Linked DNA regions of Homo sapiens. The protein of the gene in region 1 purifies or fractionates together with the protein of each later gene. This does not show direct contact. Each region holds a gene or a part of one and is shown on either strand. Other genes may lie near its edges.

Region 1 (7,000 bases):
TTTGAGCCTGGTACTAAAAGTGCCAACCTGACTTAGACAAAGGCTTTCCATTGCTTGCCTTTCCTTTCTCAGCCCTGAAACTCTGTTTGCATGGCTGCCTGATTTTCTTTCTTTTTTTTAAATTCGTTCTTGTTGCCCGCATTCGGCTTTGTCTTTGTAGCCACAGATTGAAAACTAATACCAGTGGTTGGATGAAAGAAAGAGAAGACTTTAATAGAACTTTTAAACAATTAAGGGAAGTTCAGAAATAGAGTGAACAGTCCTGTGATTTCTCCATTACTGGAAGTGCTCACATAAAGGTGCTGTCACCTGGCAGGGTTTGGAGTTGGGCTCAGGGGACAGGACTGCTGCCCTGGAGAGGGGTCCGGGAGATGACCTTGGGGCTGTTCCCCTTTCCCTGTGGACTCTGGCTTTCTCTGAGTCCTCAGTGCCTAATCATTGTTCTCCGCTTTTCTTTGGGTAGTTCAGGGCTCCAGAGCCCTGGTGCCCTTCTCCTCTGCTGAGCGTCCACCCAGGGTTCACCTCACCCAAGGTCTCATTTCCTTTGCTGTCATTCCGTTCTCTGCTCAGGACCTTGGCACTCCCTGTTCATTTTGATGATCATTTTGATCACCTATTTATAGACCTGGCATGAAGCAGGCAGGCCAATTAGTGTTCAAGTGGATTGAGTTGTAATAATGTGAGTCAAGTCCTGGTGCTTGTGTGTTAAAGAGCAGTAAGAGATTTTCTGCAGGTGTTAGTGAATTTCAAACTTCACTTTTCTCCTTTGCACAGAGCTCAGCACAGTAAAACCAATTTCAATGCAAGAGCAAAAAGAAAAAAAAAGACACCACAAAAATGAGCTAGCCTTGTTTTAATTTTATTTTACAGATGAGGAATCAGCCTTAGGGAGGTTTCATGACTTGCCCCCCAGAGTGGAACTTGGGTAGAGTTAGAGTCAGGGCCCTGGTCCCTGGTGCTCTTTCCTGGTCGCTTCTCATAGCCAGGACGTTGCTTACATTAGTTCTCAACCCCACTGGGACCAATCATTTTTATTGCCAATCTATTTTGGGGCTCTGTTCTCGTGGCAATAAATCATTCTTTCAGAGCTCCCTATTTAACCTTGTGAGAGCGTGTGTGTGTGGTGGAGGTGCTTACATAAATGCAGTATTTTTAACCTGCCTGGCACGCTTTAGGTTGGCGTTAAATGAATATCTGGAGAATAAAGGTTTGTAGTTATTCTGAAGCATCACGTCCTGTCGTGCTTGGTTTCTTTCATTATTAAATCTTACTCGACTCCTCCTGCAGCCCCTGTCTTTCCAGGGAACAGGTGAAGAAAATCAAGTCTATTAGGGAGAAGCACACATACTTTTATATATTTTGATATGACGGTTTCCTTGTGGAGTATTGAGAGAAGCTTTTCTTCATATTTATACCTTGAATGCCACTTAGGTAGTTGGCCTGGGGCGGGCTGTGCTACTTCTGTTGGTATTGAGAAGCCTGGCAGCTTTGGTCCTTGTGAGCACCAATAATGATTGTATTACAAAGTGGGTCCTTGTTACCCTCAATATTTCAAAAATAGAAACTGAAGGAAATGTAATTTGATAGTGAATGTTGGTTTCTCCTTTTTAGGTGGCACAGTCAGTTTTAGAGGAAAGCAAGGAGATTTCTAAAATTCCTGTAAGTGACTTTCGAGGAATCAAAGAAGTGCAGTAAAGTCATCACTGAAAGAAGCTTTTCATTGAGACCTTGTAAACCGACATATTGATGTGGGATATTGTATTTTTTCCCTTTGCAATTTAACTATTTAAGATTCAAATGAAAATTTAAAGAAGCCATTTCCACCATTTAAATGATTAACCAGATTTAAATGAAGCCGGTGGTGGTGTTCAAAATGAAGCATGTGGTTTACATATGTTTCCTAAATGTACCCTAAAAATATGTAATTTCAGTGGCCTTTTTTGACCTTTTAAATGTTACGATAAAGTTGAGATTTGTTCTGAACTGCAGGTGAAAGATGTGTTTGAAGCTGTCATAATCTAAGTCAGCTGTATTCAATATTTACTTTGTTTATTTACTTGACTATCGAGAAAATAAAATTTTATCTCATAACCTTGGCAGAATTCCAGAGAAAAGTCTAATTCTTAATCAATAGCCACACTTTACTGCCTAGTAAACTCACTGATATTGATAGGGATGAGCTGTGTTTTACTACAAAAAGCAGTGATAACACCCTGCCCCCATTCCTCCTCAATTCTATAATGAATTGGCTTTTATTTCCTTAAGTGCATTGTCTTGACAAAATTTTAACAGCGCCACTGGCAGGAAATAGTAGCGACTCCCTGGACAGTGAAGACTTGGATTTGCGGGAGAATCCCAGTGTATTCTGGTGGAAAGTGCGTGCTCTGACCTCATCCTCCCATTTCTTCCAAGTACTCAGCTGCGTAGACTTGGCCAAACTGACAAGGGTGATGGTGTGGTTGGCCTGGTGGATGGAGATGCTGTCTTTTGAATCTTCTCAGCCTCATTTTAATTAATGGGCTGCAGGGACCAGGCTGGGTCCCCAGCTGGAGCAAGGGGTAAGCGGGTTCGATGTGCATCCACAGGGTTCTCTTCGTCCTATTCCAGTTCTGCTGACGCGCTGTTCAGTGGGCCACTGGGAGAGGGAATGAACAGGGAGACTTCCCAGTGACCCTTGCACTTGGGAATTCTGGCTGCTGTTACTCAGCGGGAGCTGTTCTGGGAATTCCTATTGCTGTGCCTCTGAACTGAGGGGAAGGGAGCATAGAGGAGTGGTCAGAGGCTTGCGGGGCCCTGCATGTGCTGCTGGCTTCCTGCTGGACCCCTGGTCTCCTCCCCCTGTGCCCGCAGAACAGGACTTCGCTCTCACTGCCAAGGTGCCCAGCTCCCTGCTAGTTCGTAAATCTCAAAGAGAGATACCTGGCTAGATTGTCCAGTGAGGACTCCCAGCTTTTTGATGTTACTGAGCCTTCTGTGCAGACAGTCTTGCTTTTGGGGAATCTTGCTCTCATGTTTAATGGTTAACAAGTGCATAAACACTCATTTTCGCTTCTCATTCACTCATGGAAACACTTAATTTGCTTACTGAATAGTTGTGTTGTTACCTTAATTTCCTCTTTTCTGTCCCCTCTCCACATAAGGAAGCCCCTTGAAACCCAAATTACTAATCACCTGCCCCCCGGGAAAGGTTGTATGTGGGGAAAGAGAGAGCAAACCAGAGTGAGGCTACGAGCGGGGGGCAGAGGGCATTGACCTCTGAGATTTCTCCCTGTGCCATTTGATGGCAGAGGGGCTGTGGAAATGTAAAACCTCGTTTTGGTGATGAACATACTTGAGTTTTAGATTACTGGCTCTTTTCATTAGCCACATGTCTACTCTTGTCTGATGGGGGAGGATTGTAGAGTAGTCTAGAGCTGGTGTTTTGGAGGCATCTTCCTATTTGGGCTTTGTCATCAATGAGTGCATTTTAGCAGTTACACTGACAGAGAAAGCTTTCATGAAAACTTACTCAACACAAAGACTGGATTCTAGGTCTAGGGTACTTTGACTTTGTGGTGTCCACGTGAGTTGATCAGGCTTGTTTTCTCACAGTCTGTAGCCCTGCTATGGACAGGGATGAATTGCAGGAGGTTTTTCTTGGGGAGGGATTTCAGTGAGTGGCAGCAGATTTGTCCTGGCCGCTCTGTGGACCCCTTTCCTGAAAGGAGGGGGAGCTGGTGCTGCTCCATTACTGGCTTACTGCAGGGAAGGCCAAGGGGCCCCTTGCTGTCTGTCTGTTGTTGTTAGCATTGAAACTGTGTAGGTGTGAATAGATCACAAACTATAGTACAGCCATTCCATTAATGTTGAGTGAGAGAAGACAGTCTCAAAATGCTGCATGCTGTATGAGTTCCTTTATATGACACTGGCAAAAAGACAGAACCGTAGTGACAGAAAACAGATGGGCATTGATTGCCAGGAGTTAGGGGGTGGGGGAGTATGGCTACAAGGGGGCAGGAGGCAGGTGAAGGATGGGGAACTGATTTGTATTCTGGTTGTGGCAGTTACATGTGTTAAAATTCACAGACCTTTACACACATGCACACAACACACACACACCGTTTAACTGTATATGTTATTTTAAAATGTGACATTAAAAAAAGGCCAATAATAAACTGGGAGAAAAACTATTACAAATCAAAGGATTATATATATGTAATTAGTAAAGGGCTCCCTCAAATCAATTAAGACAAGACATATCTAGAAAGAAAATAGGCAAACAATTAAAAGAAGTATGAATGGCCAAAAAATACATATTCAGCCTCACTCATAATCGAGGAAATGCAGATAGAACCAATGATACCAACAAAAGCCAAAGCTCATATAAGTAATTATTCTCTAAGTAAACTTGAACAAAATTGAGTTAATTTGGAAAGATTTTATATCGATTTGAAAGATAGTAATACTTGTGTTCATACTTTGCTATGTAGGACCTAGCTTCTTATAATTGCCCGGGGGTGATCTAGGGTAATGGTAAAGATAGATAGGGGGAAATAAAGATTCTTTCCTGGGATTCTGTAATACGTGTTAATTTGGAAATCCATCTGGTGTATAAGTCAAATCTGACTTACAATAATCTTTAGCTATAGACAGTTACCATTTTTGCTGCTTCAAAATTTCCCACTCCCATGATTTGTGCTGCTGTCCAGATCGAAGATGACAAGTGGCCCATGCAGGATGATCTTCAGCGCCTCACAGTTCCTGGTGCGAAAGAAGAAGTTTAGTTTCATCTGGAGGGCTTCGTTCCTACATGAGTAACTATAGGAGGTCATTTGCCCTCTGTTCTTAGGCATTCTTGTATATAATTGACAGCTACCTATTTCACGGTATTGACAATTAATAAATGGATTTATGAAGTGTTAGCCCCACCTACTTTTAAGACTCATAACCATAAAACTATGCATGAACTTGAGAAAAACACAGTTCAAATTTACACGTATAATCCTAAAATATTTTTAAATGGGGTTTGTTGGTGCCTGTTTTTTCATTGTGTGTGTGTGTGTGTTTGTGTGTGTGTGTGTGTGTGTGTATGTATGTATGTAGGTATATCTCTTGGAAAGTCATAAAATACCCCTCTTTGGATTTCTGTGGAATAGGTGGTTTCAGTGCAAGAATGAATGAATATATCGGAGACTAATACTTGAAATCTATTTTCAAAGAACTCGTGTTTCCTAGTATATATGAAGTGACATGTATAAATGACATGAATGCTTTCAGGCAAAATGTTTAGATTGTGATTTGAAAATGATGTGCATATGAGAAGTCGTTAAGATGTTGGCCAAAACAGTGTGTGTATAAATTGATCTCCATTGTTTATTCATTTTGCTTTGCTTCCTCTTGCATTGACCCATCCACTTTTTCAAGTTCACAATGATTCTTTTTTGCTGCTGCCATTGAAGGATGCCACTGATACCTGTGAGAGGGCACTCTTTGGCATTTGCATTCTGAAAGTTTTGCATTTTCTTATTTGTGTTTACTTTTTAAGTTCATCCTTGTTCTGCATGACAGATATGCCAGGGCCTGCAGGAATAGCATTAAAATTCTGTTGTTTTTTAGATAACTTTATTAGTTTAAGTTTTAAATGATAAGGACCGAGAGCTACAATTCCTCTGTTTTTTATTCTGAAGCTGAACCACACAAATATTGAAAAACAATGCTTTGACTGGAGTGTTATATATATTTCCACCTAACTAGCTTCACACAATAAAATCTCTAAAGTTTAAATTGCCCAATATTTTGACATCTAAATAACTGGAATAAATCCCTCATTAGTCTAATAGTAAACAAATAGATTTCTCATTTGTAGGTGGCTTTTTAAAAAATTTAAGTTCATGATTATGAGAAATTCTTCCCAGCGTTCACTGCCCTTTTCAGTACCAGAGTGATGAAAGCTGGCATGCAAGGGAACATTACTAGCTCGAAAAGCAAAACAAAACAAAACAAACCCAGATCGCATGGGGGCAGGATGTATTTCAGTTTTTTTGTTTGTTTGTTTGTTTGTTTGTTTTGAGATGGAGTCTCGCTCTGTCACCCAGGCTGGAGTGCAATGGCGCAATCTTGGCTCACTGCAACCTCTGCCTCCCGGGTTCAAGCAGTTCTCTGCCTTAGCCTCCCAAGTAGCTGGGATTACAGGCGCCCGCCACCATGCCCAGCTAATTTTTTTGTATTTCTAGTAGAGACGGGGTTTCACCATCTTGGCCAGGCTGGTCTTGAACTCCTGACCTCGTGATCCACCCATCTTGGGCTCCCAAAGTGCTGGGATTACAGGCGTGAGCCACTGCGTCCGTATTTCACGCTTTTTAAGAGTCACTTCACCTCCATCTAAATTTTGTTGCACTTACCCTAATATGTCTTGGGTCCAGGAGCCTGGAGAACGGGTGCTAATTTGATGGTTTCAGGCTGTACCTTTTACTCACGTGCCAATTCAGATCAGTGCATCCTGATGGGTTGCCCATAGGAGAGCAGCTCTTCATGGCAGGGGCTTCACTGTAGAGTCATTTAGTGCCAGAATGTTGTTAGTAGGTAAATTTTGTTAGTTGGTTGGTATACATATTACTTTTCCAATATTTAATTGCAGAATTTGCAGGATTCATTGTTAGGCCTTTCTCTCATACCTCATGGGTATTGTTTATTAGGGCCAGCCTCAACTCTGCTGGAGTCTGAATTCTCATAAGGTTCAGCCTGTTTGTAAGACGGAAGCTGTCCACTGAACCAAAGAGCTGGAAGCCTTCGAAAGGCATGCAAGATTGAGGTGGAATCACACAGATTTTCGGTGATAACCTGCAGAGTGGACGATGGAGGCTTTGGAAAGTAGGATGGCAGCCTTGCAACAGCCTGCCCCTGGCCATGCTTGCCACACCCTTGCTATCCTCTAAATCTTTAACAGCAGCTGCCAGGGAGCAGCAAGAGAGGCCAGGACCCCTGTCACGTGGGATGAGATAGCACCTTTGGAATTGTGCTC
Region 2 (11,774 bases), on another chromosome or scaffold:
TGAGTATATAACAAAGAACTATACATAGGTTTGGGATTTTAAAAGCAATATTCTTCAGTACTTTTAAGATTGTCCTCAGTATCTCATTGTTGTTTGCACAGGGCTTCAGCCCATTCTTAGCCAAAGCTGCACAGTTTGCTTCCATGAGACTGTTTGCACTTCAATGTCATTAAAGTATATTTTCCCGGAAATGGTAGTGCAATGCCTCATGATGCTCAACACGCTCCACTTTGTAGCACATGGCACAGAAAGAAATAGAATGCTGTTTGCTACACATATAAAATCTATATATATTTTTTTACAATACTTAAACAGTGGTAACTTTGATGACTGGAAGTTTGGGTAAAGGGTAATTTAGAGACTTCTCTTTTTTTTTTTTTTTCCAAATCAGCTTCTAGAAAATAGATGAGCTCTTTGGGAGGCCGAGGCGGGTGGATCACGAAGTCAGGAGTTCGAGACCAGCCTGACCAACATGGTGAAACTTCGTCTCTACTAAAAATACAAAAATTAGCCGGGCATGGTGGCACACACCTGTAATCCCAGGTACTCAGGAGGCTGAGGCAGGAGAATCGCTTGAACCCGGGAGACGGAAGTTGCAGTGAGCCGAGATTGCACCACTGCACTCTACCCTGGGTGACAGAGTGACACTCCATCTCAAAAAAAAAAAAAAAAAAAGAAAAAAAAAAGAAAAAAAGAAAATGAAAAAGAAAACAGATGAGTTTTAATAACAAGTATATTTCAGAGATGCACACATTGTCTACTTTCTACATTACAGTGTGATCCTTTGTGCTGTTAGCAGAGCTGAGGTCTTCCAAAAGACAACACTACAGAATAAGGTGAACCATCTGCTCCTGTAAGAAACCTTGTGTGATGCACAAACCCAGGACAGATACAGAGCTGCAGAAAGACAAGATGTATGACATATAAAAGGACCACAACAGAGAATTCTGTTTAGAGTACTATTTGCCTAAATGTCACAGCATTTTTTCATAGTTCAAAATACACAGATACTTACATTATGGATATATTTATGAATGATTGTAAATAATCTAATGATATATTGTTAGATATGGTTTGCTAAATATTTATCTGTGACTATAGTATGTTGTATATATACACATATATATAGAATATATATATATATATTCATGAATGAGACTGGGGTATAATTTTCCTTTCTCAAAATGTCCTTGTCAGGTTTTAATATCAAAGTTATGCTGGCCTCATTAAAAAGTTGATGAATGTCTCTAATATGCCCAGAGAGTTTGTAAATTGGTTTCTTAGCCTATTGGCTGCATGTAGTTGATTTATTTAGGAAGTGATCTCAGGTAACAGAAGAAACCAGGAAAAATGAAACTTGGAAAGAACAAAAGCAAACAGAAATGTGCTGGGGACAACCGAGGCTTAATTCTTCTGGAATCTCTCATGTAGTAATATAGAATGCACTAAACCGTCCAATCAAAAGAAAGAAAGGAGCAGCAACCAGTTTCATGCAGGCGTAACTTGACAGCACCTCCCCGCATATATTTCACCTTCTACCCCATGGCTTCTCTGACATGAAGCATGGGACACCTGTGGGAACCTCCCTACAGATACCCACTTATATATTTACAACCTGAAAATGCAAGGGAGTTAACAAGCCAAAGACAAACATTTATCAGCAGGGGACAGGAAGCTGTAGATAAATTCTCCCCTGCCCTGAATTAAAAGGTAAACTGGCAGAATGTGAGTTTTGGCATAAAATTGTTACAACTGGCATTGTTTCTTCCTCAATTGTTTGGTAGAATTCACTGCTAAAACATGAACAGTATATAATCTGCCTATGGTTTTTTTGTGGGAAGGTTTTAATTACAAATGCAATTTATTTAAAAGATATAGGACTATTCAGATATTCTATTTCTTCTTGTGTACATTCTGATAAACTGTATTTTTCTAGGAATTTGCTCATTTTATCTAATTTGCCATATATTGGCAAGTGGTAGTTTATACTATCTTATTACTATTAATTGAATTATAACATATATACAGAAAAAATGAACAGATTATAATTTACAGCTTGATGAGTCTTCACAAAGTAAACATACCCATGTAAATATCACCAAGATGAAGAAATACAACATTAACAGTACATAATCTGCCTATGATATTGAGTTTTTTAAAAAAGTTCTGTGAACCCACAAATTAGACATAATTATTACTATTGTCTACAGTTAGTAGTTGTTTAGATTTACTCACAAGTTTGCTATTTTCTTTGCTCACCATTTCTTTTGACATATAAGCCTTCTTTCTAGGGTCATTTTCCTTCTTCCTAAAGTATATCTTTCAGAATTCCTTTACTGAAGAGCTCTTGATGGCAAACTTTCAGCTTTGTGGCCTAAAAATGTCATAAATGCATCTTTACTCTTGAAATGTATTCTTGGTTTTGTTTTGTTTTTTGTAGCTCTAGGTAGACAGTTATTTTCTCACAGTGCTCTGCAGATAATATTCCTTTGCCTCCGGCTTCCATTGTTGCAGATGGAAAGTCAGCTATTAGTATAAGTCATTTAGTAAATATTTTGTCTTTTCCTTCTCTGGGTGCTTTTGAAATGACTTTGTGTTTTGAAGTTTCACTACAATGTATATAGGTGTGCATTTCTTTAAAATTATCCCTCTTGGGGATTCCTGTATCTGGAAATTCAGCCATTATCTCTCTAGATTTTGCCATTTCCCCATTGTCTCTATTACATCCTTCTGGATCTCCTGGTTGACATATCCAGAAAACTTTTATTCTGACATCCTGGTCTCTTAACCTGTTTTTTATACCTTACATCTATTTGCTTTTCCACATTGCATTCTAAGTAATTTCCCACTCACTGATTTCTCTTCAGCTGTTTACTCTCTTGTTTAACTCATCTACTTTTTCTAATTTCAGTTTTTCTCTTTTTAATGTCTAAATGTTCTCTTTTGTTTTTTTGTTTTTTTTTTTTTTGAGACGGAGTCTTGCTCTGTTGCCCAGGCTGGAGTGTAATGGCATGATCTCAGCTCACTGCAACCTCCACCTCCCCAGTTCAAGTGATTCCCCTGCCTCAGCTTCCCAAGTAGTTGAGACTACAGGCATCACCACCACACCCAGCTAATTTTTGTATTTTTAGTAGAGACGGGGGTTTCTCTATGTTGGCCAGGGTGGTCTCGAACTCCTAACCTCAAGTGATCTGCCTACCTCAGCCTCCCAAACTGCTGGGATTACAGGCTTGAGCCACCGTGCCCGGTCTCCTTTTGCTGTTTTTCAAAAAAAAAAAAAAAATCTGATCAATTTTGATTGTCTCTGACTTCCTTATCATATCCTAAATACTTTTAGTTTTTGCATATACTACAAATACTTATTTTATATTCTGCATTTCATAATTCCAACATATAAAGTCTCTGTGAGTCTGATTTCATAGGTTTTTGATGTTGATTTTCATCCACGGTGGCTTGTTTTCCTGTATTTTCATGATTTTAAAAAACTGTCAGCTCTGCCGGGCACGGTGGCTCACACCTGTAATCCCAGCACTTTGGGAAGCCAAGGCGGGCAGATCACGAGGTCAAGAGATCGAGACCATCCTGGCCAACATGGTGAAACCCCGTCTCTACTAAAAATACAAAAATTAGCTGGCATGGTGGTGCGCCTGTCGTCCCAGCTACTCGAGAGGCTGAGGCAGGAGAATCACTTGAACCCTGGAGGCAGAAGTTGCAGTGAGCTGAGATCTTGCCACTGCACTCCAGCCTGGCGACAGAACAAGACTCCATCTCAACAAAACAAAACAAAACCTGTCAGCTCATATTTCTTGAAGCTTATCTCAGGGAATTATTTGTACCTGGATCTAAAATGCATTTCTCCAGAGAGTATTTGCCCTTGCTTCTGTCTGGTGTTAATAATACAAGCACACTTTAAACTACATATTCAGTTTGGAGCTTTTTCATGCTATCTGAGCAGAGCTAATTCAAGTTCCAAACATGTATGATCATTGCTTGTCATTTCTGCCCCTAAAAATTATTTTACTTTTCCACCAGCTCAACCATACATTAAAAAATTATTTATAAAACTGTATTTTAGGCCGGGCACAATGGCTCACACCTGTAACCCCAGCACTTTGGGAGGCCAAGGTGGGCGGATCAGTTGAGGCCAAGAGTTCGAAACCAGTCTGGTCAACATGGCGAAAACCCTAGTAAAAATAGAAAAATTAGCCATACCTGGTGGTAAGCGCCTGTAATCCCAGCTACTTGGGAGGCTGAAGCAGGAGAATTGCTTGAACCAGGGAGGCGGAGGTTGCAGTGAGCTGAGATTGCGCCACTGCACTCCAGCCTAGGCGACAGAGCAAGACTATGTCTCTAAAAAATAAATAAATGCATACATAAAAATAAAACTATATTTTAGCCATTGGTAAGGTAGTTACATATGGAGGGGTTTTTCTGTGTTTTTTTGCTTACTGATCTGTTTACTAAGGCTTCAGCATCATGTAGATCCAATGACTGAAGTTTATAATATATTAAATACATATCTATCATCTATTATATCTTATATTGGAAGAGCTGGAAAGGCATACTCCCTTTCATTGGTCTAGAGTGTCTTGGCTCTTTTCAGACATTTATTGTGTCATACGTTTTAGAATTAGCTGTCAACACAAGCCATAAAGAACAAAATCACATACTTTGCAGCAACATGGCTGCAGCTGGAGGCCATTATCCTAGGCGAATTAATGCAGGAACAGAAAATCAAATACTGTACTTCTCACTTGTAAGTGGGAACTAAACATTGGATACTCATGGGCATGAAGATGGCAAAAATAGACACTGGGAATACTAGAAGTGGGGAAGGGTTGAAAATCTAATTATTGGGTACTATTTTCACTACCTGGGTGAAGGGATCAATCGCACCCCAACCCCACCATCATTATATATATTCATGTAACAAAACTGTACATGTACCCTCTGAATCTAAAATAAATGTTAAAATTTTTTTAATTAGCTGTCAAATTTTTAAAAAATAACTATAGGGTATTGACTAGCATTGTGTTACTATATACGTGTGCACACGCACAGTTTGGGAAGAACTGAATTATTTACAACTTTTAGTCTTCCCATCTGCACATTTCTCGCTAATATTCTTGTTTTTTTTTCTAATTGACAAACATTTTTCCCCCATTACAGTTTCTAACTAGTTATTTGGTGATTACTAGTTCTTGTGAAACAGGTATGTTTCCATATCCTCCTTGTACAAATGGCTTAATAGTGCTTAAGGAGTTTATTGTCAAGACATGGAAGACTGCTAAAGACAAGCAAAATAGAATCATTTCTGCCCCTCAGCTTAGGCAGCCCTTGAGGAGGAAATGCCAATTGCTCCCTTTAATGTTTGGAAAGAGAAATGTGATTATTGTAGCTCTTAAGGCAGACAACTAAAAAATCTTGTTGAAATGGATTTCTTCTAGGAATTCAGGGCCTCTCTTCAGACTCTACAAGTCATATGCTCTATTAAAGCATAGTTTCCACGATAACTACTTGCTGGCATAAAGGCCACGAACAGTTCTTACTTTCTGGGGTCATTCTTCAAATTAACAACAAAGTCCACCCCATCCCTTACCCCTACCCCTAGGTATGATAATTTCATCTCCACGAAAACATATTACTGCTAAACCCAAGCGGTTCAGCATGCCACTTTTCGGATCTGATGTCAATTTACAATCCTTCAAAGCTCAAAAGCTACTTTTTCCTTTTGTCAGCAAGACACTTCCACCCTCGTGTGTCTTGTACATACTGATAGGTCACAGCAAACATTCATTGAATTTTAACTGGGAGCATTTTGGATGGAAATCAAGAGACCTGGGATTAACTGTAAAACCCATGATAAATTATACCAAACGAATGAACAAGAAGCAAGCACTACGTGTTTTTCCCTTTGAGACAGTCTCACTGTTACCCAGGCTGGAGTGCAGTGGCTCGATCTCGACTCACTGCAACTTCCGCCTCTCAAGGTAAAGCGATGCTCCTGCCTCAGCCTCCCGAGTGGCTGGGAGTACAGACGCGCACCACCACGCGGGCCATTTTTTTTAAAATTGTTTGTAGAGACGGGTTCTCCCTATGCCTACGCTGCCAAGGGTGGTCTCGAACTCCTGGGCTCAAGAGATTCTCCGGCCTCGGCCTCCCAAAGTGCTGGGATTACAGGCGTGGGCGTGTAAGCATATATATACATGATTTTTTTTTCCCGAGGACCTGGTCCCCGAAGCACCAATTTCCCTCAACAGTCATTTAGAAAACGAGGCTCACAGACAAAACACAAACAAATAACTTTTTCGCTGGAGGATTATAACTGCAATAAAAGGAGATCCCAAAGCAACCTGAGACACTGCCTTGCCCTGATTGGAAAGGGGATTCCGGTGATTAGTGAAAGATGACTCCTGCATCCCTCGCGTGCGTCCGTATCCGGGAGCAGCCACTAGGTAACTGTAGAGGCCACTGCAATTAATCGGCTTGAACAGCCAGGAGCGGAAACCCGAGAGTCAGTTCAACCACAGCCACCCGCGTGTGCCCGCGGAAAGCCGATGGCCTACTCTCGTCCGGCAGCGCACTGGTTTCCTGGGTTACCGGCCTCAGCGCTCCTCCCGCTTTCTTTTCCGGGAGGCGACAATCTGACGCTCTCAGCGCGTGACGCAGCACGCTTTGATATAAATGCAGACCGCGCGGCCGTAGCTTCCTCTCTGCTCTCGCGGCCGACTCGCAAGATGGCGCCGGTGAGTGAGCGATGTCTTGGTGGGAGTGTTGTGTGGCAATTTAATGATTTCCGCTGTAACGATTTTTGCATCTGTCGAGTGGAGACGTCTCAGTCAAGATAAAGGGAGGGGAGTAGTGAAGTCTGGGTCAGAAACACAACCAAGACGCGAGGATCCTGAACTGTTTTTCGAGACTCCCTGGCAGCTGCCATGAGGTCTAGTGGAGTTGGAGCTGGGCCCGGAATTGGTTTAGGATGGGTGGTTTTGGACACGCGGGAAAGAGGGAGGCACAACTGTAAATGGGCCGGTGGTACTGCAATCTGAGCCATTTCTTTACTATCTCGCGCCTGATAATGCTTTTGCCACTCAGCACTGGGTAGGGGAATGGTGGGTAATCGGGCCGGTCTGACGACCTTTGCCAGGCCAGAGGGAGCTCCTAGGCGCTCAGCTCCCGCGATGGCCGACATCACAAGTTTTTGAGAACTTTCAGTTGGGGAAGAAGTTTCTCGGTGAAGTAATTTTTAGAAAAGTATAAGTCTAGATTCCAGCAATGTGAAATAAACGTGCTTCAGATGTTTTACTTAAGTCATTAGTAAGGGAACCAGTAAGATGTTAAAATGTTCCTAAGAATATCTGAAAAGCTAGATATACATGCGCAATTTACAAATAAAGTTAGGATAAAATTGCTGGGCTAGCTACAAAACTGGGTAATGCCCAGCATGGCCATAAACCCTATAGGGTTATCTGTTCCATTAGACAGAAGTTGTTTGTGTCTCCCAAATTAACTTCTGCGCCAACTGGGTAATTATCTTTTGGCACATGTTACCATGCTACCTGAGAAAGCAAACTAATGTGTAATACTTGGTAGCCACTTGGGTGAATCTAAATTGGAGGTTATAGTCTGATAAATACAGATTTGTTTGTTCATATTGCAGTGAATGTACATGGTTGCTGGCCACAGTAACATTTTGCTTATGTAGCCATATTATATGGTCTTGGTATAAAAGGTTTGGATATGGAAAATTTAAGTTCCACGGTGTTGGTTTTTAGGTTTTTTTTTTTTTTTGAGACAGAGTCTGTTGCCCAGGTGGGAGTATAGTGGCATGATCAGGCTCACTACAACCTCCGCCTCCCGGGTTCAAGCAATCCTCCCGACTCAGCCTCCTGAATAGCTAGGATTATAAGCATGCACCACCACACCTGGCTAATTTTTGTATTTTTACTAGAGATGGGGTTTCACCATGTTGGCCAGGCTGGCCTTGAACTCCTGACCTCACGTGATCCTCCTGCCTCAGCCTCCCAAAGTGCTGGGACGGCACCTTGCCTTTTTTATTTTTATTTTTTCTTTTTCTTTTCTTTTCTTTTTTTTTTTTTTTACCAAAGTCCCCTTCCCTTGCCTATAATAACGTAAGAATTGAATTTTCTAGACATAGGTGGGTGGAATCCTAGCTCTGGCACTTACCTGAGCTTGGGCTAGGCAGTATACTAACCTATTCCCATCTGCAGTGGGGTGGCAGAAAAGCACGATAATTTAAAATTGATCATTGGTAGTATAGAAAACAATGAAAGTCCGTAACTTTTTGACAACTTGAACATATTAGGACTTGGTTAGAGGTTCAAATCAACCCCGGCGTGGGTAGTGGTGGTGTTTTTTTATTTATTGTTACATTTCTGTATATGTAACCTAACAGTACATTGTACAGATTGCATTGGTACAAACTTTAAAATTGTTTATATAAATTGAATAAGTTGTTTTATATAGCTACATAATTATTTCTCATTTATGTAGCAGAAAGACAGGAAGCCCAAGAGGTCAACCTGGAGGTTTAATTTGGACCTTACTCATCCAGTAGAAGATGGAATTTTTGATTCTGGAAATTTTGTAAGTATCATTCTACTCGGCTTATTTTTGTAATCAGAGTTATTGATAATGGTTTAAATATATAGTATTTGATAATAACCTAAGCTCTATTCCTAGGGTACCTTCCCTAGTGAATATCTAGGGTTCTCTTCCCTAGTTTTGCATTTTTTCTGTTTTAAAATAGGAGCAATTTCTACGGGAGAAGGTTAAAGTCAATGGCAAAACTGGAAATCTCGGGAATGTTGTTCACATTGAACGCTTCAAGAATAAAATCACAGTTGTTTCTGAGAAACAGTTCTCTAAAAGGTTGGTACTTTTGCAAATTTTAATAAAACTATAGTAGTTTTGGAATATTTCATAGAATATGTAGTTATTACATGTATTCTGTTTATATGCAAGAATAAATATGAACTTTAGACTAAAGGCCTACATAAATGGGAAATTCAGTAAATGAGTGCCAATTGCTGAGTCTAGTTGTAAGTGTCATTTATTGCTAGAATATGAGCCAGTTGTGTCCACAGTCCCAGTCCAGTAAATTATAGGCCCTGTAAATCCAAATTGTATATAACCTTTAATGCTGAGTACTTTAGTATTTGAGTATGTTGCAAGAAACATGTCTGATGTGTACATAGGAGAATTGTCTCAAGTTATTTATTCAGTAGAGGTAGCCAGTTAAAGTCAAAGTCTTAACATCTTGCTGCCAGTTTTTATTTGTTGAATTTATTCACCAAATATTAAATACTACATGGGCAGCACAGGACTGGGTAACCCAACAGTGAACCAAGCAGGCAGTTTACCCACCACCAAGAAACTTCTAGTGGAGAAGAGAGAGTGAAATGGAATTAATCAAGCAGTGATAAGTGCTGTAAGGGCATAAAACTAGTTGCAGAGTTTTTGGGTACGTTGGTAAGTTGGTCAGGAAATGAAATGCAGAAGTGAGCCTTGCAGTTGTTACAGGCAGGATGAACCAGAAGCCTGGCAGATTAAAGTAATAGTAACAAAGCCAGTGTGTCTGGGGTATAGTGTTCTGGGAGGAATGCATGAGATTGGAGGGTGTCTGGGGAGCAGATCTTGAAAGCCATGGGATGTGTAATGGGAAGCAATTGTTTATTGTGGCTGAAAAAGACTAGGGTGATACATCTGGTGGAAACTGAAGATGTAAGAGCTAATTTCAGTGAGAGACAATGATGGCTTGGACTAAAGTGGTTGCAGTACATGTTAACTGAGATTATAATCACTAAGGATTCAGAGATAAAAATGTAGTAGCTGTAGTAGCTGTAAATCAAGTATCTTACAGATAATCAGATAATTATTGTAAAATACAACTCTAGTTACATTAGATGTAGAGAGAGCCCAAGAATTTTCAGAGAAGTTGAGACTTAATGAGCATAGTATGGGTTTAACCCTATTATTAATAGGTTGCCTGTTGAGCCGGGGTGGGATTGGGAGCTAGGGGGCTTGATAGTGGTGAAGGAGGTGTTAACGTTTTCACATATATATACACAGATAATATATTTGAAGAGTGAAATCATATTGCTTAAATAATTTGGCTGTAGCAGTTTGACAAGAGAATGCTACCCTAACAATCTTGAACAATATATAGTGTGGCAGTATGACAAGAGGATGCTACCCTAACAGTCTTACACAATACATCCTGTGAATGGAAGGATGAAATATTTTGGAGGAAGCTAGGTACAGAAAAGATGAATATGATGATGTATATTTTTCGTATAGTAAACCTTTACATAGTAGGAATTGTATTTCTTAATGAAATTTATGTTTTTATTTTAAAAGGTATTTGAAATACCTTACCAAGAAATACCTTAAGAAGAACAATCTTCGTGATTGGCTTCGAGTGGTTGCATCTGACAAGGAGACCTACGAACTTCGTTACTTCCAGATTAGTCAAGATGAAGATGAATCAGAGTCGGAGGACTAGGCAAAGGCTCCCCTTACAGGGCTTTGCTTATTAATAAAATAAATGAAGTATACATGAGAAATACCAAGAAATTGGCTTTTAGTTTATCAGTGAATAAAAAATATTATACTCTTGAACTTTTGTCTCATTTTTTTGAGTATGCTGTTTATATGATTTTGATTTCCCTCTGATAACTATCAACAGTATTTAAATAGCTTATAGCTGGTATAATTTTTTCCCACGATTTCCAAAATCTTTTATGTACTCAGGTAAAAGTAGCGTTATATAGGAAATCTTTTTTTTAGACACTCTCGTTCTGTCACCCAGGCTGGAGTGCAGTGACTCAGCTTCCTAAATAGCTGGAATTACAGGTGTGAGCCACCATGCCCGGCTAATTTTTTGTACTTTTAGTAGAGTAGGGTTTGGCCATGTTGGCCAGGCTGGTTTCAAACTCCTGACCTCAAGTGATCTACCCACCTCGGCTTCCCAAAGTGCTGATTATAGCTGTGAACCACCATGCCCGGCCAGGAAATCTTACTGTAGAACAATTTTTTATATAGCTGTATAAAATGTATATGATTGTCTTGACAGTCTCAAATACTGTTTTTAATAGCTTGTAAATGTAATCTCAAGTGCTTAGAACAGTTCTTACATATAAGTTGCTCTGTAGTTTGCTCTTATAGTTAGCCCAAAGACTCTGGGTGTGAGGCCTGCTGTAAACCAATGTTAAACTGCTTATTAGAAAGCCCTAACCACCTGCTTTGTAGGCACCAGAAACTCAAAACCAAATCTCAACTCAGCTACAGAATCTACTGTGGTCCTTGTCTGAAAAAATTAGTTCACTCGGTTGGAATCTTGTCTCAGAGCATCCTCATCTCTTTCTCAAAAGCCCCTACCCCAACACCGGCGTGTTGGTTGTCTATTGAAACTTACAAGTGGATGGACCCTTTCTCCCGAATAAACTGGCCTTTGAAAGCTCTAATCGAAATGGTTTGGCAAAATCCATACTGCAGGAGATTAGGGAGGACAAGAATGATGTGCCTTTTTGTACTGCTGAGCCTGATGGTGGTGCCACTACTTCAGGTACTTAGATGAGTCTTGATGCTAATAGAATTGTGTCGCCAAACATATCTGGACAGTTACAACCTAATCTATGCATTAATTGGTTTGGGAATTGCTTGAAATTATTGTTTAATTCAATGTTTTAATTCGTTTTCCTAAAAATTTAAGTGCCCCCATCATCGTGCAATACCTCAGTGCAGCAACTCCT

Evidence for each region.
Region 2: the proteins of TRIO (region 1) and RPL22L1 purify together in Homo sapiens (affinity purification with mass spectrometry; 2 studies listed by BioGRID). This does not show direct contact.

Annotation. Positions count from the first base shown.
Region 1 is NC_000005.10:14,146,342-14,153,341, forward strand, and holds part of TRIO (triple functional domain protein), read left to right. Parts: intron 1-7,000. UniProt on the Homo sapiens protein: Guanine nucleotide exchange factor (GEF) for RHOA and RAC1 GTPases. Involved in coordinating actin remodeling, which is necessary for cell migration and growth. Plays a key role in the regulation of neurite outgrowth and lamellipodia formation.
Region 2 is NC_000003.12:170,865,131-170,876,904, reverse strand, and holds the start of RPL22L1 (ribosomal protein eL22-like), read left to right. Parts: upstream 1-6,709; 5' UTR 6,710-6,737; coding exon 6,738-6,746; intron 6,747-8,514; coding exon 8,515-8,607; intron 8,608-8,703; exon of another isoform or gene 8,704-8,770; coding exon 8,771-8,892; intron 8,893-10,380; coding exon 10,381-10,525; 3' UTR 10,526-11,774.